2 linked regions of the Homo sapiens genome follow. The protein of the gene in region 2 interacts with the protein of the main gene of each other region in a pairwise test. Each region holds a gene or a part of one and is shown on either strand. Other genes may lie near its edges. The genes, in order: CIDEC and SPATA12.

The links.
Region 1: the proteins of SPATA12 (region 2) and CIDEC interact in binary tests that used the Homo sapiens proteins (3 or more experiments, as listed by UniProt).

What each region holds. Positions count from the first base shown.
Region 1 is NC_000003.12:9,873,550-9,885,656, forward strand, and holds the start of CIDEC (lipid transferase CIDEC), read right to left. Parts: upstream 6,705-12,107; 5' UTR 6,675-6,704; intron 5,508-6,674; exon of another isoform or gene 5,506-5,507; 5' UTR 5,393-5,505; intron 5,264-5,392; exon of another isoform or gene 5,244-5,263; coding exon of another isoform or gene 5,230-5,243; exon of another isoform or gene 5,172-5,229; intron 4,963-5,171; coding exon of another isoform or gene 4,938-4,962; coding exon 4,885-4,937; intron 3,671-4,884; coding exon 3,517-3,670; intron 1-3,516. UniProt on the Homo sapiens protein: Lipid transferase specifically expressed in white adipose tissue, which promotes unilocular lipid droplet formation by mediating lipid droplet fusion. Lipid droplet fusion promotes their enlargement, restricting lipolysis and favoring lipid storage.
Region 2 is NC_000003.12:57,060,963-57,072,276, reverse strand, and holds part of SPATA12 (spermatogenesis-associated protein 12), read right to left. Parts: intron 1-11,314.

The sequences.
Region 1 (12,107 bases), about 47 Mb from region 2:
AGCTTGCAGTGAGCTGAGATCACGCCACTGCACTCCAGCCTGGGCGACAGAGTGAGACTCCGTCTCACCGTCTCAAAAAAAAAAAGTGTCATGACACTTAGGTTAACTGCCTGGGTTTCAATCCCAGTGAATGCACTTGGCCTCTGCCTCTGGAGAATGGAAATAGTGGTAACTACCTTAAGGCTCTCATCAGAAGAAATGCTGCAAATCACCTGGCAGATTACATGGTCCATAATAAGAATAGGCTCCTCAGGACATTTACAACCACATCATTAGTTATCTTGGAATGATGGCATTATCACGTCACTTTTCTTGCTTGGATTCACTAAGGAACATATCTTGCTACTTAAAACTCTTTCAGTAAGGGCCTGGGATCAGCAACACACCAATAGCAATGAACATATCTAGCTCCCTGGTCTCGGTTTCTGAATACCATTCTCCACTAAAATGAAACAGACCTTAGAAAAAAATGGCCAAGAATTAGGGCAGGGAAAATACAAGATGAGCCTGTAATACCTTGTTGCACCAGAAAGAAAGCATGCAAAGAATGCTGGGGACATGATAAAAAGATGTTGAAGTCTGGGACAACTTGAGCATCAATAAATAATCTGTTGCCATTCATGTATGCTATTAAAATAGAAATACCTGTGTCCCTTTTGAAACAAATAAATAAATAAATAAATAGGCCAGATGCAGTGGCTCATGCCTGTAATCCCAGCACTTTGGGAGGCCGAGGTGGGAGGATCACTTGAGGCCAGGAGTTTGAGACCAGGCTAGGAAACATAGCTAGACCCCCTCTCTATTTAAAAAAAAATTAAAAATTAGGTGTGAGATCGTGTACCTATAGTCCTAGCGAGTCGGGAGGCTGAGGTGGCAGGATCACTTGAACCTAGGAGTTTGAGGCTGCAGTGAGCCATCATCACATCACTGCATTCTAGCCGGGGCAATGGAGCGAGACCCTTTCTCTAAAATAATAATAATAATAATAATAATAATAATAATAATAAGTGAATACAGTGACAGATGCAGAATTCAATGTTTACTTAGTACAAAGTACTGACCTAGAAAATAAATAACAGAGGGGAAAATGTTACATAGAGAAGCTTGACTGTACCTACCACTTTATTCAAATAATCAAAACAGTAAGGTGACAAAAATTGCATATAATTTTGCAGTGACAATCTTTTTAAAATTTTTTTTAAACAGGGTCTCGCTCTGTCACACAGGCTGCAGTGCAGTGGTGCATTCACAGTTCACTGGAGCCTCAAATTCCTAGGCTCAAGTGATCATCCTGCCTCAGCCTCCTGAGTAACTGGGACTACAGGTGCACACCACCATGTCCAGCTAATTCCTGTATTATTTTTGTATAGACGGGGTCTCACCATGTTGCCCAGGCTGGTCTTGAACTCCTGGGCTCAAGGACTCCTCCTGCCTCGGCCTCCCAAAGTGTTAGGATTACAAGCATGAGCCACTATGCCTGGCCTGCAACTTATTTTTATCATATTCCTGCCAAAGATATAAACCTGAATTAAAGAAATGGATAGGGCCAGGTGTGGTGGCTCACACCTGTAATCCCAGCACTTTGGGAGGTCGAGGCAGGCAGATCACGAGGTCAGGAGATTGAGGCCATCCTGGCTAACACGGTGAAACCCCGTCTCTACCAAAAATACAAAAAAAATTAGCTGGGCGCGGTGGCGGGCGCCCGTAGTCCCAGCTACTCAGGAGGCTGAGGCAGGAGAATGGTGGGAAGCCGGGAGGCAGAGCTTGCAGTGAGCCGAGATAGCACCACTGCACTCCAGCGTGGGCGACAAAGCGAGACTCTGTCTCAAAAAAAAAAAAAAAAAGAAAAAAGAAATGCATAGTTCCAAACCAAGGGACAGTAAACAAAAATAGCTGGCTCATAATCTTCAAAATGGTCAAGGCCATGAAAGTCAAGGAAACACTGAAAAACTGTTCCATACTGAAGGAAACTAAAGAGACATACAATTAAATAAACACTTGATCCTGACCTGGATCCTTTCACTATAAAGGATATTATTGGGACAGCTGGCAATGCTTGAGTTTCAGGATTCAATTACAGTAATGTAATACTGTTTCCTGATTGTAATAGTTGTATGATGGCTATCCTTGTTTGTAGAAAGGAGAATATCCTTGTTTGTAGAAAATGCACATTGAAGTATCCAAGAGTAATAGGCAGCAAGTTGGCAACTTACTCTCAAATGATTCAGGCAAAGTTTTGTATTGTATTTGTACTGTGTAACTTTTGTTAGTTTGCAATTGCTTCCTCCAGGGGAAGCCACATATAACAAGGACACTTTGATGCAGGGGGTGCCCAGACCTCAGGGCAAAAAAACAGCACCAAGTCCAGGTTAGAGTATGAACAGGTCCTTTTGATTGAAAGCACAAGAAATGTAGTCTGCGCAGCCAGAAGCCTTACAAAGGAGGGGAAATTGGCTCTCCGGAAGAACAGAACTAATACACAGAAATAGGGGAGGAAACTTAGAATAAAGAGGTTAGCTATGATTGATTTCTGTATGTTAAATAGAGCCTAATAATTGGAAGCCTAATCCAAACATTTGACCTGTACCAGGCACCTGGGATTGCAGATGAGAGGGTCCCACCCCTATAGAGATGATCAGTGAGGACAGGCATGGTGGCTGACGCCTATAATCCCAGCACTTTGGGAGGCAGAGGTGGGTGGATTACCTGAGGTCGGGAGTTTGAGACCAGCCTGGCCAACATGACAAAACCCCATCTTTACTAAAAATACAAAAATTAACTGGGCGTGGTGGTGCATGCCTGTAGTCCCAGCTTCTTGGGAGGCTGAGGCATGAGAATCACTTGAACCTGGGAGGCGGAGACTTCAGTGAGCTGAGATCATGCCACTGCACTACAACTTGGGTGACACAGCAAGACTCCATCTTGGGCTGGGTGTGGTAGCTCACACCTGTAATCCCAACACTTTGGGAGGCCAAGGTGGGTGGATTGCCTGAGCTCAGGAGTTCGAGACCAGCCTGGGCAACACAGTGAAACCCTGTCTCTACTAAAGTACAAAAAATTAGCTGGGTGTGGTGGTGTGTGCCTGTAGTCCCAGCTACTCAGGAGGCTGAGGCAGGAGAATCGCTTGATTCTGGGAGGCAGAGGTTGCAGTGAGCCAAGATCGCGCCATTGCACTCCAGCCTGGATGACAAGAGTGAGACTTCGTCTCAAAAAAAAAAAAAAAAAAAAAAAAAAACTAATGGAAGTGGGAAGCATGAGATTTTCCAGCAAGAAAAATGTGCCCTGAAAATACCACTGACCTACTGATAGTGTAGGATGGTAACGTACTGCCCCCCTCCTGTTACCAAACAGACATCAGTCATTGCTAATTAGTTGGACAGCTCTCCAGGTGGGCATTACCATCTGTAGGCGCTGGTAGGTATCAGAAAGGAAACTGTGCCACCTTCTAAGCCCTGACCTCCATCTCTGCTGAATCCCAGCTCACAGCTGGGCTGTGCAACGCGCAGGTGCTCTCACCTTGAGGAGGAGGTCCTCAAGACTGTAAGCCATGATGCCCTTCCTCACGCTTCGATCCGCCGTGCTTACGCGGCAGGGCCGGGCCCTGGGGGCCTTGGGGCTGGGCTCCGACAGCAGCTGCTGGGTCACCACAGAGGTACGCACTGACACATGCCTGGGGCAGTTGAAGCATCAGGGTGAGCCACCCACTTTGCCCAACCCTTGCCCACCACACAGGGGAGCCACCTCCCCACCCCTCCTGACTGGGCTCATGATCAGTCAACCCCCCATCACCTGCTAATCCTGCCCTAGTCTTACTCAGAAGCCTGCTAGAAGCCAGGCACGGTGGCTCATGTCTGTAATCCCACACTTTGGAAGGCTGAGGTGGGCAGATCACTTGAAGTCAGGAGTTCAAGACCACCCTGGCTAACATGGTGAAACACCATCTCTACTAAAAATACAAAGATTAGCCAGTGTGGTGGCACATGCCTGTAATCCCAGCTCCATAGGCCGGGACACAAGAATTGCTTGAACCCTGGGAGGCGGCAGAGGTTGCAGTGAGCTGTGATGGTGCCACTGCACTCCAGCCTGGGCAACAGAGGGAGACCTCGACTTAAAAAAAAATAATAAAATAAAAATTAAAAAAAGCCTGCTAGAGCAGTGCATCTCAAACTTCGAAGGACACATAAGTCACCAGGGCTTCTGTTCAAATGCAGATTCTGACTGAGTAGACCTGGGTGAGGCCTGAGATTCCAAATGTTTCACAAGTTCCCAAGTGATGTTGATAACGCTGGTTCTCAGACCATGAGGAGTAAGTAGCAAAGTAATAAAAGACCCACCCCACATTCCCCATTTACCACCTGTCTTGGCCTCACTCTCCTCACCTGTAAAGTTGGATGAAGTGGGGGAAGCCTGAAGTCAATGTAAGGTATTTTTTTAACTGAAGCACTCAATTTAGAACCAAAGGAAAGGAAAGGACCTGGATTTTACAGTCAGGCAGTCCCAATTTAGAATCTTGGCTCCCTCATGGATTTGCTGGGTGATTGAGAGCACCCACTATGTGCCTCAGTTCTCTCACCTATTAATTTGGTATAATAACCCCCACTTCCCAAAGTTGTTGTGAGGCTTACATGAGATCAGGAGTAAAAGCACCAAGCATAGTGTCTACTCCTTTTTATGCATGGTGTGGTGGTGGTGTAAGCAGCAGCATTAATATCACCCAGGGACTTCTTGGCAGTGCAAAATCTCGGGTCCCACTCCAGACCTCCTGAATCAGAATCTGCACTTGAACAAGGTCCCCTGTGACCTGTATACCCATTAAAGTTTGAGAAGTTCTGGCTTACAGCTCATAGGTGGCTCTCTTTCCATTCTGCCCATGACTTTCCTCACCTGGAGAGGGACTTGGGGTAGAGAAGGCTAAGGGACTTCATGGCGTATTCCATCCTTGTCAGCTGGACTGCGTTGGACCTGGGAAGGAGGCAGAAACAATTCATCAGGGTGAGATGAGAGGGTTCCCATCTCTCTCATTGTTAGGCAAGGTGCAACCCAACCCCTGTTCAGCAACCTTCCTCCCTATTCTTCTATCCCAACTCACACATACCTCCCCCAGCCCTTCTCCTGTCCGGCCCCATGCATGCCAACCAAGACCAAGCTGGAGACCCCACCCCTCTCCCCACCGGGTGCTCAGGCTCAGCCTCACTCAGCAGCTGCTGCTCCTGCCCCAGTCCCACTCACTCCATGTTTCTCATCCCCTGGCTCTGGTCACACTGAGCAGATAACCCAACTCAGGGCTGAAGAAGCCTTGCCCGATTTGTTCCTGTCCATGGGGACAGAGTCCACTTTACGCTGGCAGGAGGTGAGTCACACCACCTCACACTTCTGGGGACCGTTCCCTCACCTCTAGTCCAGAGACCTCACAGGCAGGCAGCCCAGTCAAAGCCTCCTCTCTCCCATGGGTCCTTGAGCAATCCGAGCCCCTTCCTGAGGCTTCACAGTGGCCAAAAGAACATTCTGTGATGATAGAGGCATGCCTTGTACATACTCTCCAATACCATTGCTACTAGCCCCATGTGGCTATTGAGTATTTGAAACATAACTAGTGTGATTCAGGAGCTGAATTTTTTTTTTTTTTGAGTTTCGCTCTTGTCACCCAGGCTGGAGTGCAATGGGGCGATCTTGCTCACTACAACCTCCGCCTCCTGGGTTCAAGCAATTATCCTGCCTCAGCCTCCCCCGTAGCTGGGATTACAGGCACCTGCCACCACGCCCAGCTAATTTTTAGTTTAGTTTCGTTTTGTTTGGATTTTTAGTAGAGACTGGGTTTCACCATGTTGGCTAGGCTGGTCTTGAACTCCTGACCTCAGGTGATCTCCCTGTCTTGGCCTCCCAAAGTGCGGGGATTACAGGCGTGAGCCACTGCACCTGGCACAGGAGCTGTATTTTTTACTTTATTGAATTTTAACTAATTTAAATTTAAATAGCCACATTGCCATGTGGCTGTTGGCACCCATATTAGATCACAGGTCTAAGCAGATAGCCCTGGGCTCATCTGTCACCACTTTTTCTCCTAAACCTCTGTGCTCCAACTCTTGAAGGGCCCAACCCTTTGCACAGATAGTTCCCTCCACCTGTAGTGCCCTTCTCTGATCCAGGACGAAATTTTTGCAGCCTTGAAGCCTCAGTTTCATTGCTTTCCACTCTTTAAAAGGAAAGTCTTCTTAGACCACTCCCAAAATTATTACACCTTCATCCTGCTCTTCCTAGCCAAGGGTGCCTCTGGGTCTGTTTCTGCTGTAGCCCCTCAGTCCCTGGATGCCTGGCCCTGAGGTCCTCTTCCTATTCGAAGCTCCCGGCACAGGTAGGGCTTCGCAGAGCAAGGGGCACAAGGGGTGGACATAAAACAAAAGTCCCCTTGCCAGCTGGGGACAATCACTCTTTGCTTTTAACAATTTGGGGGACTTTCCAGACCAGGCCCCACAGAGGCAGAAAGCCCCTTTCCCACTTAGCACTGCAGAAGCTCTAGTCCTAGCTACGTGGGAGGCTGAGGCAGGAGGATTCTGCTTGCCTCAGCCTCACCCACTTCGTATCCCTAGCAAAACTCTGCCAAGAGCTACCTAACCTGCTCTCCAGGAGCAAAGAAAAAAAAATCCCCAAACCCAAAACAATAACAAACTCCTTACCTCCCCCTCACAGCCTCCTGGAAATACTGCCCTGTCCCGCCCAGCCCTCCCTTCATTTATTTCCAGCCCCCATGAAGCTCCTCCCCAGCCTTCAGCCCCAGCTGGGGAAAAGAGCTTGGGGTGAGAGCTGCAAGCCAGCCTGACTTCCAGAAAAGGCCTAAAAGGAGGGGAGAAGGCATGTTTCGAAAGCTTTGGCAAAATGGATGGCCCATGACATGAGATCAAGCACAGAGGGCACAGAAAGCAGGCAGATGTGGGTTGTGGTCCCAACTCCACCCCATATCAGCTTGCTTGAGCTTAGACAGATCACTTGACTTCTGTGAGCCCGTTTCTCTTCTCTGTGTAATGACGATAATGATTCTTGTTTTATAGGGTAGTGGTGAGGATTAGTGACAATAAAAGTAAAGGGGCACAGTGGCTCATGCCTATAATCCCAGTGTTTTGGGAGGCTGAGGCGGGAGGATTGCTTGAGGACAGGGGTTGGAGGACAGCCTGGGCAATAGAGTGAGACCCTGTCTCTGAAAAAAAAAAAAAAAAAGAAAAGAAAAGAAAAAAGAAAAAAGTAGCCTGGGTGCCGTGGCTCACGCCTGTAATCCCAGCACTTTGGGAGGCCGAGGCAGGTGGATCACTTGAGGTCAGGAGTTTGAGACCAGCATGGCCAACATGGTGAAGCCCCGTCTCTACTAAAAATAGAAAAATGAGCCAGGCGTGGTGGTGTGTGCCTGTAATCCCAGCTATCTGGGAGGCTGAGGCAGGAGAATCGCTTGAGCCTGGGAGGCAGAGGTTGCGGTGAGCTTAGATCACACCACTGCACTCCATTCTGGGTGACAGAGTGAGACCCTGTCTCAAAAAAAAAAAAAAAAAAAAAAAAGTCCGGGCACGGTGGCTCACACCTCTAATCCCAGAACTTTGGGAGGCCGAGGTGGGCAGATCACAAGGTCAAGAGTTCGAGACCAGCTTGGTCAATATGGCGAAAACCCCATCTCTACTAAATATACAAAAATTAGCCGTGCGTGGTGGTGGGTGCCTGAAATCCCAGCTACTCAGGAGGCTGAGGCAGGAGAATCATTTGAACCCGGGAGGCAGAGGTTGCAGTGAGCCGAGATCACGCCACTGCACTCCAGCCTGGGTGACAGAGTGAGACTCTGTCTCAAAAAAATAAAAATAAATAAAAATAAAGGCTTTGCAAACATAAACACTCAATGGATCGAAGTGATTATTAGTATTACTGATAATTTTTTATTTTTATTTTATTATTTTTAATTTTTTTGTCTTTTTCTCAATTTGATAATGTACATATTAAATCATAGCAGAGAGTAAGACAAGCTGAAATGTGGAGTGGTTAAGAGTGTAAGATCTCTGACCCAGCAGTTCCACTTCTGTGTGTGTGCGTGTGGTGTATGTGTGTCATACAGAGCACACCTGTTGTCCCAGCTGCTCAGAAGGAGGCTGATGCAGGAGGATCACTTGAGCCCAGGAATTAAAATTTAGCCTGAGTAACATAGGGAGACCCTGTCTTTACAAAAGAAAAGAAACAAAACCAAAACCAAACAAAATTACATATATATGTGTATATATATACACACACACATATATATATACACATACATATCCAAAAGAAATGAAAAATATGTCTACACAAAAACTTGTATGTGAATATCCATAGGATTATTCGTAATAGCCAAAAGGTAGAAACACATGAATGTTCAATTTATAAATCGATTTTTTAAATGTGCCTATCCATACATGGCATATTATTTATCAAAAAGGATCCATACTACCACATGGAGGAACCTTGCAAACAGTACAGAAAGTAGACAAAGCCAGTCACAGGAATCATATACATATTGTATGATTCCACTTATATGAAATGTCTAGAATAGGCAAATCTATATAAAGACAAAGTAGGGCCGGGCGCGGTGGCTCACGCCTGTAATCTCAGCACTTTGGGAGGCTGAGGTGGGCGGATCACGAGGTCAGAAGATCGAGACCATCCTGGCTAACACGGTGAAACCCGGTCTCTACTAAAAATACAAAAAATTAGCCGGGCGTGGTGGCGGGCGCCTGTAGTCCCAGCTACTCGGGAGGCTGAGGCAGGAGAATGGCGTGAACCCGGGAGGCGGAGCTTGCAGTGAGCCGAGATCGCACCACTACACTCCAGCCTTGGGCGACAGAGCGAGACTCCGCCTCCAAAAAAAAAAAAAAAAAAAAAAAGACAAAATGGGTTAGTGGTTGCTTCGGGCTGGGAGTAGGGGATGGGAGGGGAATGGGGAGTGGCTGCTAATTAGTACAGGGTTTCTTTCAGGGTTTTCTTTTCTTTTTTTTTTTTTTCTTTTCTTTTTGAAACGGAGTCTCGCTCTGTCGCCCAGGCTGGAGTGCAGTGGCACCATCTCCGCTCACTGCAAGCTCCGCCCCCCAGGTTCCCGCCATTCTCCTGCCTCAGCCTCTAGAGCAGCTGGGACTACAGGCGCCCGCCACCACGCCCGGCTAATTTTTTGTATTTTTAGTAGAGACGGGGTTTCACCGTGTTAGCCAGGATGGTCTCGATCTCCTGACCTCATGACCCACCCGGCTGGGCATCCCAAAGTTCTAGGATTACAGGCAGGAGCCACCGCACCCAGCCTTTTCTTTTTCTTTTCTTTCTTTTTTTTTTTTTTGAGACAGAGCATTGCTCTGTCACTCAGGCTGGAGTGCAGTGGCACGATCTCGCCTCACTGCAAGCTCCGCCTCCCGGGTTCACGCCATTTTCCTGCCTCAGCCTCCCCAGTAGCTGGGACTACAGGTGCCTGCCACCACGCCTGGCTAATTTTTTTGTATTTTTAGTAGAGACGGGGTTTCACCGTGTTAGCCAGGATGGTCTTGATCTCCTGACCTCGTGATCTGCCTGCCTCAGCCTCCCAAAGTGCTGGGATTACAGGCGTGAGCCACCGCGCCCGGCCTTCTTCTTTTTTTTTTTTTTTTTTTTTTTTTTTTTTTTTTTGAGACAGAGTCTCGCTATGTCACCACCCAGGCTGGAGTGCAATGGCGCGATCTCAGCTTACAGCAACCTCTACCTCCCACAGGCGTGTGCCACCACACCTAGCTAATTTTTGTATTTTTAGTGACCTCTGCCTCCCGGGTTCAAGTGATTCTCCTGCCTCAGCCTCCCAAGTAGCTGGGATTACAGGCGCCTGCCACCACACCCGGCTATTTTTTGTATTTTTTAGTAGAGACGGGGGTTTCACCACGTTGGCCAGGCTGGTCTCGAACTCCTGACCTCAAGTGATCTGCCCGCCTCTGCCTCCCAAAGTGCTGGGATTACAGGCATGAACTACCACGCCCGGCCAGGTTTCCTTTTTTTTTTTTTTTTTTTTTACCTATTAATTACAAATTATTTCAGTGATGTTTGCACAACCCTGTAAATATACTAAAAATCATTGACTTGTACACTTGAGTGGGTGATGTGAATTCTATCTCAATAAAGCTGTGTTTTTTAAAAAAACATTTAACCTCATCTTTCTTTTAACACAGGGTTTTTCACACTTTGGTACATCAGAATCAGCTGGCGGGTTTGTTAAAATTCAGATTGCTAGGCCCCACCCCAGAATTTCTCACTTAGTAAGTCTGGGGTGGTGCCTAGGAATTTGCGTTACTAAAGGTTCCCAGATGATTCAGAAGCCATGGCTGCTCAGGGAGCCCACTTTGAGAACCAGTGGTCTAGCGCTAGCTGTGTGAGCTAAATTTTCTAAGCTTCAGTTTGATCCAACAACTGGGGATAAAAATAGCTCTACTGCATCTGGTTTCCATGCAGATTAAAAGAGATAATCGTGAAATGTACTTGCTACAGAGTCTAGTGCATCCTTAGAGCTCAATAAATGGAAATTATTATTATTTAGATCTAAATCCTTCCCTGGAGGGGCTCTCAGGCAACCATTCATTCATTCATTCAGGAAATATTTATTAAGCACTTACTATATGCCAGTCCTTCTGGGGCTAAGAATACAACAGGAAACAAGACAGCCTTGTCCCACACTTCAAGGAGCTGACATTCCTGAGGAAGGTGGGAACTCAGACCATGAATAAATATGCAAATAAACAAAATAATTTCAGATAATGATGTTCTGGGAAGAAAACAAAACGAGGTGATATAATAACAGCTGGAGAGTTAGATTGGCCTATGCGTTCAAGAAACGCCTCCAAGGAGGTGAGCTTTGAGGTAAATCCTGACTAAATCCTGGGGGATGATCAAGACAAAGGAAACATCATTGCAAAGGATTTGAGAAGGGAGCATGAAGAGAGAGTGAGGAGACAGGAACACATATAACTTAAACTTAAGGACAGACCAAGAGCCAGGAGAAAGGTACAAGCAAAACCCTTTAGGGAAGAGGTTCTGGAGAAAGAGTCGGGGCCCCTCCCTTCAACAGTCATGGCTCAAATATTTATTGCTCTACTGTGTACTTGATGTCCTGAGATAGATAGGCCAATAGATGACTCAGGAGAGGTCTGGCCCTGACAGAAAACCAGACACAGAAAGACGAAGATAACCACGAGCTACAGCCAGAGAGCACTGTCCAGGGATGAAGGATAAACCCGGGGATTCTTCACAGCAATTAGGAGAGGGAGACGGTTTTGGCTCCATTGGAATTTATCTATTCAACCAGCATTTCTTTCTTTTTAAATTTTTTTTCTTTTTTTTCTTTTAATAGAGATGGAGTTTTGCCATGTTGCCCAGGCTGGTCTCGAACTCCTGGGCTTAAGCGATCCTCCCGCCTCGAGCTCCCAAAGTGCTGGGATTACAGGCGTTGAAATTTTTACACTATGCCAGACACTATGAGCTGCTGGGGACATGGATGACTTAGTTCTTGTCCCTGCCTTTGGGGAATTCACATTCCAGTGAGAAAGGCAATGTCTGAGCATGGTTCTCAAACTCTGTAGTACATGAAAATCATCTGGGACACCTCGGATTGGAAAAGGACTGTGGCTACAACTCAAAATTGAGAAGCCACTAAATTTAAAAATATATTCTGCATGTTAAATTTATAACACCATGAACAAAAAGTAAAAAGACATCAAATAAACAGGGAAAATACTGTATATTCGAACTAATATCACAGACAAGAAGCTAGTCTTTCTCTTTCTCTCTCATTCTTTCCTCCCTACTCTATCTACATATAAATTAAGGCCCGGGCGCCGTGGCTCATGCCTGTGATCCCAGAACTTTGGGAGGCCGAGGCAGGCGGATCACAAGGTCAGGAGATCAAGACCATCCTGGTTAACACGGTGAAACCCCATCTCTACTAAAAAAATACAAAAAAATTAGCCGGGCGTGGTAGTGGGCACCTGTAGTCCCAGCTACTCAGGAGGCTGAGGCAGGAGAATGGCGTGAACCCGGGAGGCGGAGCTTGCAGTGATCCAAGATTGTGCCACTGCACCCCAGCCTGGGCGACAGAGCAA
Region 2 (11,314 bases):
CTCTTGAATATATATCTAGCAGTGGAATTGCTAGGTATATGGTAACTCTTAACATTTTGAGGAACTGCCAAACTGTTTCCAAAGTGGCTGCACTGTTTTAAAATCCCACCAGCAGTGCACGAGGGTTCCAGTTTCTCCACATCTTCATCAACTCTTGTTATTATCCATCTTGTGATTATTGCCATCCTAAGTGGGTATGAAGTGGCATCTCATTGTGACTTTGATTTGCATTTCCCAGATGGCTAATGATGTTGTGCCTTCTTTCATGTGCTTATTGGCCATTTGTGTATCTTCTTTGGAGAAATGTATATTTGGTCTTTTATCTATTTTTAAATTGGATTATATGTCTCTTTATTATTGAGTTGTAAGTGTTCTTTATATATTCTGAGTTCAGTTCCTTATCAGCTATGATTTTAAAGTATTTTTTGCCCATTCTGTGGGTTATTTTTTCACTTTCTTGATGGTGTTCTTTGAAGTGCCAGGTTTTAATTTTGGTGAAGTTCAATTTATCTATTTTTCTTGGGTTTCCTGTGCTTTTGGTGTCATACGTAAGAAACCTTTGCCTGATGCAAGGTCATGAAAACTTATGCCTAAGGCATATTTTTTTTTTTTTTTTTGAGATGGAGTTTTGCTCTTTCACCCAGGCTGGAGTATAGTGGCATGATCTCGGCTCACTACAACCTCCACCTTCCGGTTTCAAATGATTCTCCTGCCTCAGCCTCTCAAGTAGCTGGGACTACAGGTGTGCATCATCACACCCAGCTGATTTTTGTATTTTTAGTAGAGACGGGGTTTCACCATGTTGGCCAGGCTGGTCTGGAACTCCTGACCTCATGATCTGCCCACCTTAGCCTCCCAAAGTGCTGGGATTACAGGCATGAGCCACCACGCCCAGCCATATGCCTATATATTCTTATAAGAGTTTTATAGTTTTAGCTCTTAGATTTAGAACTTTGATCTGTTTTGATTTGATGTTTGTATGTGGTGTGAGGTAGGGGTCTAGCTTCATTTTTTGCATATGGAAATCCTGTTGTCCCAGAACCATGTGTTGAAAAGACTCTTCTTCCCCATTAAATTGTTTTGACACTCTTGTCAAAAATCAATTTACTATAAATGTAAGCATTTATTTCTGCATTCTCAATTCTAGTCCATTCATCTATATGTCTATCCTTATGCCAGTATTGCTGTCTATACTGTCTTGACTACTATAGCTTTGTAGTAAGTTTTGAAATCAGGAAGTATGAATCCTCCAACTTTGTCCTTCTTTTTCTTTTTTCTTTCTTTCTTTCTTTTTTTTTTTTTTTTGTGACAGAGTCTTGCTCTGTCACCCAGGCTGAAGTGCAGTGGCATGATCACTGCTCACTGTAGCCTCGACCTCCTGGGCTCAAGCAATCCTCCCACCTCAGCCTCCCAAGTAGCTGGGACTACAGATGTGTGCAACCATACCCAGCTAATTTTTAATTTTTATTTATTTATTTTTGGTAGAGACTGGGTCTGGCTGTGTTACCCAGGCTGGTCTCAAACTCCTGGGCTCAAGTAGTCCTCCCACCTTGGCCTGCCAAAGTGCTGGGATTATAGGTGTTAGCCACTGTGCCCAGCCTGACCTTCTTTTTCTAGATTATTTTGGCTGTTCTGGATCTCCCTATGAATTTTAGGATCAGCTTGTTAGTTTCTGCAAAAAGAGACCTGAGATTTTGACAGGGGTTACATTGACTCTGTAGATCACTTGGGGAGTTTTGCCATCTTAACAATATTAACTGTGGAACCTAAATTCCTTTTTGCTGGTGGCACTGCTCACTCAGCTTCCCTAGTCATTGAGTCTGCTGAGTAGGCACTCTGAGACCCATCCATCAAACTGCACAGACAAAACTCCAGCGATGTAAATGTCTCTTTCCTTTTTGAAGAAAGTAACACAGTATACTGTAGTGTCTAATTTAAGGCTTGGGTAAGACATTTAACTCCTGAATTTGTGAAATGGGAGTGCATCTGGCACCTGGACACACATATGACAGATCTGGCTTTCCTTCATGCTAAGGATGGGATGGAGATCTCTAAGATACTCCCATAACCCCTTGCTTCATGCCTGGAGAAGTGTGGTGGGAACTGGGAGACCCCACAGCCCTGGAGGCACCAGGTGGTGATAGGAGAATTGAAGCCAGGCTCCATTTTATCTTGTTTTATCTGTTGGGCAAAGGGGTACAATTTCATTTGAGGAAAGAGTTCTGCTGCTAAAACAATCTTAGCCCCTCACCCCCAATTCACTCACATCATAGTTTGAAGAATGGAATAAAAATAAAAAGGGAGTAATATCACATATTAAAAGTTTAGTTTAGGCCAGGCGCAGTGGCTCATGCCTGTAATCCCAGCACTTTGGGAGGTTGAAGTGGGAGCATTGCCTCAGGCTAGGAGTTTGAGACCCGCCTGGGCAGCAAAGCGAGACTCTATTTCTATAAAACAATTAAAAATTAGTTGGGTGTGACGGCACATGTCTGTAGTCCCACATACTTGGAAGGCTAAGGTGGGAGGATAGCTTGAGCCCCGTTGTTTGACGCTGCAATGAGCTGTGCTCACACTAATGCACTCCAGCTTGGCGACAGAGCAAGACCCTGTCTCAAAAGAAAAAAAAAAGCTTAGTTTACACCCTGACATGTACTTATGTGTTCCAGATGTAATGCTTTGGCACAGCACAAATACATGATTTTATTTTCAAGAAAGAAATAATAAAAAATGGAGTGCCTATATTTGTATCACTTGGAACCTTGTTTTCTAAACTTAAAGAACAACCTGGGAAACTACATTTGAAACTTCAAATCCATTCATACCTCAACTCATCTGGGGTGAGGAGCTCTCATTTTAAACAAACAATGTGTGTGTGTGTGTGTGTGTGTGTGTGTGTGTGTTTGAGAGACAGAGATTAGAGTTATTTATTGCAGTTGTTTCAAAAAAGCAATTTAAAAAAGCATGAATTTGGACTGTGTTTTTAGTTTGTTTCTGGGAGAAGAGAAACTTACATGCAATAGAATATATGTTTTGAGGTCTTCAAAATCTCAGATCTAGGCCAGGCGTGGTGGCTCACGCCTGTAATCCTAGCACTTTGGGAGGCTGAGGCAAGTGGATCACGAGGTCAGGAGTTCAAGACCAGCCTGGCCAAGATGGTGAAACCCCGTCTCTGCTAAAAATACAAAAATTATCCAGACGTGGTGGTGAGTGCCTGTAATCCCAGTTACTAGAGAGAGGCTGAGGCAGAGAATTGCTTGAACCTGGGAGGCAGAGGTTACGGTGAGCCAAGATCACGTCATAGCACTCCAGCTTGGGTGATACAGCGAGACTCGGTCTCAGAAAAAAAAAAAAAAAAAATCAGATCTTTTGCCTTAGCAGATTCCCTTATTTAAGTTGTTGGAACCGGCAGTTCATAGGGATTTTGTTTCCATCCTTTAGTGAGGGGGGTGTGTGCGTGTGTGTGCACATGGAAAGTTAGGGGAAAAACACAATGATATAACCTAACCCCAAAACAAGGAAGCACGTTACACAGTTGAGGTTTGGCGCTTCAGTTCCTGCCCAGTCTCAGAAGGTACAGCTTGGCTGACCTTGTGTGACCTATCTCTATGACACATCTCCCAAGGGGGTGGGGAGGACTGTTTCTCTCCAGCATGGCTTTAGTTTTATAAAAGCCCTGTGCAGTCTTGCAAACTCAAATGGTTTTCTTAACAAATCACTCACATTTCATGTGTTCTGGGCTGGGCAGGGCCTCGCTAATCCTTGGCCAGCTTTGTGAGTCAGAAATTATTTAAATGATTGCCTGAGTCCTTTTGAGGCGAGAGAATTGGCAAGTTAATTTAGGGAGGTGCAATGACTCTTAAACAGCACTGCAGTGAGTGGCAGCATTGATAAATGTGTTAGAAGCTCTATTTTATTGTGATAATAAATGCTAATGAAGAAAATGAACGTATTACCTTTTAGAGTGAGATAAGAATGATGATGCTACCAAATTTTATTAAGCATTTATTGTGTGGTGGAGTATGGTGGCTTCTCCCATGTTTTTGACTGTGACCTATTGTAAAACATAGACTGCAACCTGGTAACCTGGTGTGTGTGTGTGTGTGTGTGTATGTGTGTGTGCGCGCATATCTGAATTATTTGGTGAAACAATAGTTACCCTATGCGTGTCTAGTGTCCTCTGGGCTCAAGTGATCCTCTTGCCTTGGCCTCCAGAGTAACTGGGACTACAGGTGCATGCCACCACACCGGCTAATTTTTTGTTGTTGTTTGTTTGTTTTTGTTTTTTTTGAGACGGAGTCTTGCTCTGTCGCCCAGGCTGGAGTGCAGTGGTGTGATCTTGGCTCACTGCAAGCTCTGCCTCCCAGGTTCACGCCATTCTCCTACCTCAGCCTTCTGAGTAGCTGGGACCACAGGAGCCCGCCACTTTGCCTGGCTAATTTTTTTGTTTTGTTTTTTTTTTTTAGTAGAGACGGGGTTTCACCGTGTTAGCCAATGGTCTCGATCTCCTGACCTCATGATCCGCCCGCCTCGGCCTCTCAAAGTGCTGGGATTACAGGCATGAGCCACCGTGCCTGGTCTCACGCCGGCTAATTTTTTAAATTTTTTGTAGAGACTGGGTCTCTCTGTATTACCCAGGCTGGTCTCAAACTCCTGGCCTCATGTGATTTTCTGGCCTCAGCCTCCCAGTGTGCTGGGATTACAGGTGTGAGCCACTGCACCCACCCTAAAGTTGCATTTGAAAACAAATATATCTACTATGATAGCTTTGATCAGTATATAGACAAATATTATTATTATTATTATTATTATTATTATTATTATTTTGAGACAGAGTCTTGCTGTCACCCAGGCTGGAGTGCAGTGGCGCAATCTTGGCTCACTATAAGCTCTGCCTCCTGGGTTCACGCCATTCTCCCGCCTCAGCCTCCCGAGTAACTGGGAGTACAGGCGCCCGCCACCACGCCCGGCTAATTTTGTTTTTGTATTTTTAGAAGAGACAGGGTTTCACCGTGTTAGCCAGGATAGTCTCGATCTCCTGACCTTGTGATCCACCCGCCTTGGCCTCCCAAAGTACTGGGATTACAGGCGTGAGCCACCGCGCCTGGCCGACAAATGTTATTCTTTCTGGGTTGCCATATTTTGTGGTTTTTAAAAAATATATTTTTATTCATTTATCTGGTGACTTGAAATTTCATGCAAGTACAGGTCCTTACAGACAATTTCTATTGGAAAATCACTTATTTTGGGTGTGTATTAGGGTTTGGAGAGAAACAGAACCAACAGGATGTGTGTCAATCAATCGCTCATCTATCTATTGAGAGGTTGATTTTTAGGAATTGGCTCATGTGATTGTGGAGGCCAGGTGAGTCAAAAATCAGCAAGGTAGACTGGCAGGCCGGAGACCCAGGGAAGAGTTGCAGTGAGCCCAAAGGCTCTCTGGGTAGAATTCTTCCTGCTCTGGGAGGTCGGTCTTTTTCTATTAAGGCTTATAGCTGATTGGATAAAGCCCACCACATCATGGAGAATAATCTGCTTTACTCTAAGTCCACTGATTTAAATGTTAATCTCATCTAAAAAATACCTTCACAGAAATGTCTAGAATGTTTGACCAAATAGCTGGTTACCATGGTCTAGCCAAGTTGACACATAAAATTAATCATCACAGTGGGTAAAATACTGTTTGAGGTTGTTCAGAAGAAAGGAAAAAGGCAAAAGCCTGGGCGCGGTGGCTCACGCCAATAGTCCCAGCACTTTGGGAGGCCGAGGCGGATGGATCACTTGAGGTCAGGAGTTCAAGACCAGCCTAGCCAACATGGTGAAACCCCGTCTCTACTAAAAATACAAAAATTAAGCCAGGCATGGTGGCGGGTGCCTGCAATCCCAGCTACTTGGGAGGCTGAGGCAGGTGAATCGCTTGAACCTGGGAGGCGGAGGTTGCGGTGAGCCAAGATCATGCCACTGTACCTGGGTGACAGAGTCAGACTCTGTTTCAGAAAAAAAAAAAAAGAAAGAAAGGAAAAGTGTAATGGTTGGAAGTGGAAGTGTGCTGTTGGTACAGATAGGAGAACATTTCGGAAAGAATTCCCTCCCCTTTGATTGACTGCAAAATAAGTCCCTCCCTTGTTCTCTTGCAATTACAGGTGGACCAGATGGGTGGGCAGATTGGCAGTGGGGGTGCAGAGTTTCTTGTTCTGATTGAAAGGATTTTTTCTTACATTTTAGGGTTTTTTTTTTTTGTTTTGGAGACAGAGTCTCACTGTGTTGCCCTCCTGGCCTCAAGTGATCCTCCTGCCTCAGCCTCCTGAGTAGCTGGGATTACAGATGTGAATTACTGTGCCCAGCTCTTAGATTTCATTTTAAGACTGAAGACCTGAGAGTTCATGGGCCTAAGTAAAAGGTGCCATTTATCTGCAACAAATTGGTGCATGCTCCGTAGATCTAGCTGTAGGGGGCTGTGTGTGCTAATGCAGCATTTGTGACTCAGCCGTAATGAGGATGACCTTGCCTCTCCTGTTCCGCAGGCTACCACCTAGCTGTGGTGGGTCACTGGCCACAGAAACTGTAGGTATCTGGGGCTGCCTGGGTGGGAACTCAGCCTGTATGAGAACATGGTATTTGGAAGACATTAAACATTTATTATAGCTTTTATTTTTATTGAGGTATAATTAACATACCACAAAATTGACCCTTTTCAAGTACCCAGTCTGTTTTTTAGCACATGCATACGGTAGTGCAGATATCACCACTAGTTCCAGAATATTTATCATCCTAAAATACAGTTTTTCTTTTGCAAGTAATTTCTTTTTTTTTTGTTTTGTGATGGAGTCCTGCTCTGTTGCCCAGGCTGGAGTGCAGTGACATAATCTCAGCTTACTGCAACCTCTGCCTCCTGGGCTCAAGTGATTCTCCTGCCTCATCCTCCTTAGTAGCTGGGACTACAGGTGCACACCATCACACCCGGCTAATTTTGTATTTTTCGTAGAGATAGGGTTTCACCATGTTGGCCAGGCTGGTGTCGAACTCCTGACCTCAAGTTATCTGCCCGCCTCGGCCTCCCGAAGTGCTGGGATTACAGGCGTGAGGCGTGAGCCACTGCGCCCGGCCTTTTGCAAGTAATTTCAACATTTAAGACCATGGCCTACTGGATTGGTCCCATCAGCAAATAAACATGCAGTTATTTCTCCCAACTTAAAAACAGCAGAACCCTCTCTCCACCCTACTTCTCCCTACAGTTATACACCCATTTCTCTTCAGTTTAGAGCAAAACTTTTTGAAATAATTTTCTGGACTTACTAATTTTTTGCCTTCTATTGTGTCTCAAAAAATTGTGATAAAACACACATAACGTAAAATTTACTGTGTTGACTATTTTTAAGTTTTCAGGTCAGTAGTGTTGCGTATACTGATATTATTGTGCAACCAATCTGCAGAGCTTTTCATCTTGTGACACTGAAACACTGTATCCATTAAACAGCAACTCCCATTCCCCCCTGCCCCTAGTCCCTGGAGACCAGCATTCTACTTTCTGTCTCTGAATTTGACTGTTCTAGATACCTCATATAAGTGGAATCATGCCATATTTGTCCTTTTGTGACTGGCTTATTTCACTCAGCATAATGTGCTCAAGGTTCACCCATGTTGTAACATGTGTCAGAATTTCCTTCCTTTGGGCTGGGTATGGTGGCTCATGCCTGTAATCCCAGCACCGAGGAGGCGGATGTTGAGCCCAGGGGTTCAAAACCAGCCTTGGCAACATGGTGATACCCTGTCTACAAAAAATACAGCAATTTGCTGGGCGTGGTGGCATGCACCTGTAATCTCAGCTACTTGGGGGCTGAGATGGGAGGATCACTTGAGTCAGGGAAGTTGAGGCTGCAGTGAGCCGTGATCTTGCCGCTGCATCCCAGCCTGGATAACAGAGGGAAACCCTGTCTCCAAAAAAAGAAAAAAAAAGAAAGAAAAAAAAAAGAAAGAATTTCCTTCTTGGTTTTTGGTTTTCTGTTTTGTTTTTTGAGACGGGGCCTCACTCTGTCACTGATTGCTGCAGTGGCACAATCTCAGCTCACTGCAACCTCTACCCCCCAGGCTCAAGCAATCCTCTGACCTCAGCTTCCGGGTTAGCTGGGACTACAGGCATGCACCACTATGCCCAATTAATTTTTTTGTATTTTTGGTAGAGACAGGGTTTTGCCATGTTGCCCAGGCTGGTCTCGAGCCCCTGAGCTCAGGCAGTCCCCCTCCCTGGGCCTCCCAAAGTGCTGGGATTACAGGCGTGAGCCAGCACAGCTGGCATGGAATTTCCCTCCTTTTTAAGGCAGAATATTATTCAATTCTATGCATTTGCCACATTTTGTTCTACCATTCATCTGTCATGGACACTGAGTTGCTTCCACCTTTTGTCTATTGTGAATGATGCTGCTATCCCATTCTCTTTTGAGCCCCTCATTTCAGGCAGGCTTGGCTTCCACTCCCCTCTCCCCAGATATCTCTTACCAAGGTCTACAGTGAGTGCCTGGTTGCTCATCCCAATGGCCTGTTCTCTGTTGCCATCCTTCCTGACTACCAGCAGCGTGTGATGGAGTTGGTCACTTTCTCTTCCTCGAAGCCTTGTCTCACCTGGCTTCTAGGATGCCCGACTCTCCTGATCCTCTTCCCACATCTCTGTTAAGGAGCACCCCAACCTCCTGGTTGCTCAGGCCCAAAGCCTGGGGCGTCATCTTTGACTTTTGTATCTCTCTTCTCTTCACTTGTCAAAAGACTCTACTTGTAGAGTGGCCACTGCTCCCCTCCCGCTCCTACCACCCTCCAGGTCATTCTCCCCTCTCACCTGAATGACTGCGGCCTCCAAGCCTCTGCCTTTACCTCCTTTCAGCTTGTTCTCAACTCAGAGTCAGAGGGAACCTTCTGAAGGGTTGGCTACTTCTCTGCTCAAAGCCCTCAAATAGCTCTCATTTCACTGCAACAAAGCCAAAGCCTTTAGGGTGGCTGGCTGCAAGGCCCCATGTGATCTGGCTGCATTTCCTCTCTGACTCCTCTCTTAGTTTGCCCTTCCCCCTCATAACCGCACTCTAGCCACATCACCTCCATGCTGTTCCCTGCGTGGGCACCTCAGGGCCTTTGCACCTGCTATTCCCGCTGCCCAAAATGCACCTCTCCCAATATCTGCAGAGCTTGGTCCCTCATTTCCTTCAGCCTTCCCTGGTCATCGTGTCTAAACCGTTACCACTGCATCCCAACTTCCCCTTTGCCTTCATTGCTTTTTCTCCTTACACTATCGTTATCCAATATAAGGTGTATTTTGCTTATTTATCTTGTCATCTGCCTCCCCCACTAGAATGTAAATTCCATGAGGGCAGGGATTTTTCTTCTATTGTGTTCCCTGTCATGTCCCCAGTGCCTTGCCTGGTACAGACAATAATTTGTTGAACCCGTAAAGAAAAGTTTGGTAAACAGATTAAAAGCCATTTGATTCTTCTATTATGATATAATTCTTGCCTATATTTTTCTTACCTGTGAATTATTACATATGTGTATGTATGTGTGTGTGCATGTTTGTTGTGTGTGTGTGTGTGTGCATGTGTGTAGACAGAGAAACAGCGAGTCCTGTCATTCCCACCAGATATTCCTGCTTGTTAAACAGCTACATAGTGTTTTGCTGAGTGGCTAGAGCAGCTTTATTTAACCTTGTTTTGTTCAGTACTACTGGGCAGCTTCCAATCTTTTGCTATTGTAGATTATGCAGCATCTGTGCTGGGCACTTGCCCTGCTTCCTTCCCTCTTCTCTGAAAGGCTTCCCCATGCTCCTGAGCACCCCCCGCCCCCGCCGCCGTGCTCCTGAGCCTAGCCTGAGCCCGAGTGGGGGCTGTGGTCCTGGCTGGGCCTATCATGGTTCCCCTCCCCTCGGCTGTGGTAGCCGGTCTGGAGCTAGACACAAGCCACCCTTGCCAGGCTGTGGGCTTCCTCAGGGTCATCCTAACCCACTCAGAAGTGGCAGAGAAGGTGCTTGAAGGCACTCACCCAGCGCTAGAGCAGTGAGGACAGGCCCAGAGTGTGGAGCTGCGAGGGGAGGGTTGGGCACATTGCCTTTGGATCTAGTCACATGACTGAGCTGCTCCAGGGATCTTCCTACAAATCCCCCTTCTCACCCATCTAGATGGAGTTGGATTTCTCACTGCTAGCAGTGAGTCTAGACAGATCCAATCCAGTGGAGCATCCCTGCCCCACTCTCTTTTTTTACTTGATCCTTAGTCCAGAGCAAGGAAAGATGTGGAAACCCTCCCAAAGGCATTATTCAGGGCAGAAAATGCTTGTAGGCAGAGCAGCACCTTGTTTTTGTCACAACCGGAGAAACAATTTAAATCTGAACCTATGCGGGCTCAGATACTGATGCTGCCATCTGAGAAGGAGGACCTCTCTCACCTCAGGTTCTTTGTCTGTAAAATGGGGATGAAAATAATTATACCACACCTCAGGACTAAATGAGTTAATAAAAATTCTTAGAGTGGTGAGTAACACAGGATGAGAGACTGCTCACTGAGAGTTAGCTGTGGTGGCTGCCAGAATCCTAAAAGTGTAACAGGAGTTAAACATAGAGGTATCATATAGTCCAGCAATTCCAAATCTGGGTATATACCCAAAGAAATGAAAGCAGAGATCCAAACAGATACTTGCATTCCCATGTTCCCAGCAGCGTTATTCACAATAGCCAAAAGGTAAAAATAATACAAATGTCTATTGACAGATGAATGGATAAACAAAATGTGGTATGTACATACAATGGAATATTATTTAGCCTTAAAAAGGAAGGAATTTCTGGTTGAGTGAGATGGCTCACACCTGTAATGCTGGCACTTTGGGAGGCCAAGATAGGAGGATCTCTTGAGCCCAGGAGTTTGAGGCTGCAGTGAGTTATGATCGTGCCACTGTACTCCTGCCTGGATGACAGGGCCAGACCCCATTGCAAAAAAAAAAATAATAATAAATAAAGGAATTTTTGACACATGCTACAACATGCTGATCCATGAAAGTATTATGCTACATGAGAAAAGTCAGTCACAAAAGGACACTTACAGGGGGTACCTGGAATAGCAAGTTTAGAGAGAGAAGTATTAATACAGTAGGGGCTGGGAGAGGGGCAGGTGCAGGAGGAGTTACCGCTGAATGGGTACACAGTTTCTGTTTAGAATGACAACAAAGTTCTGGAAATGGATAATGGTAAGAGTTGTACAATATGGTGAATGTGCTAGATGTCACTGAACTGTACACTTAAAAATGGTTAAAGTGGTATGTTTTATATTATATTTTACCACAATAA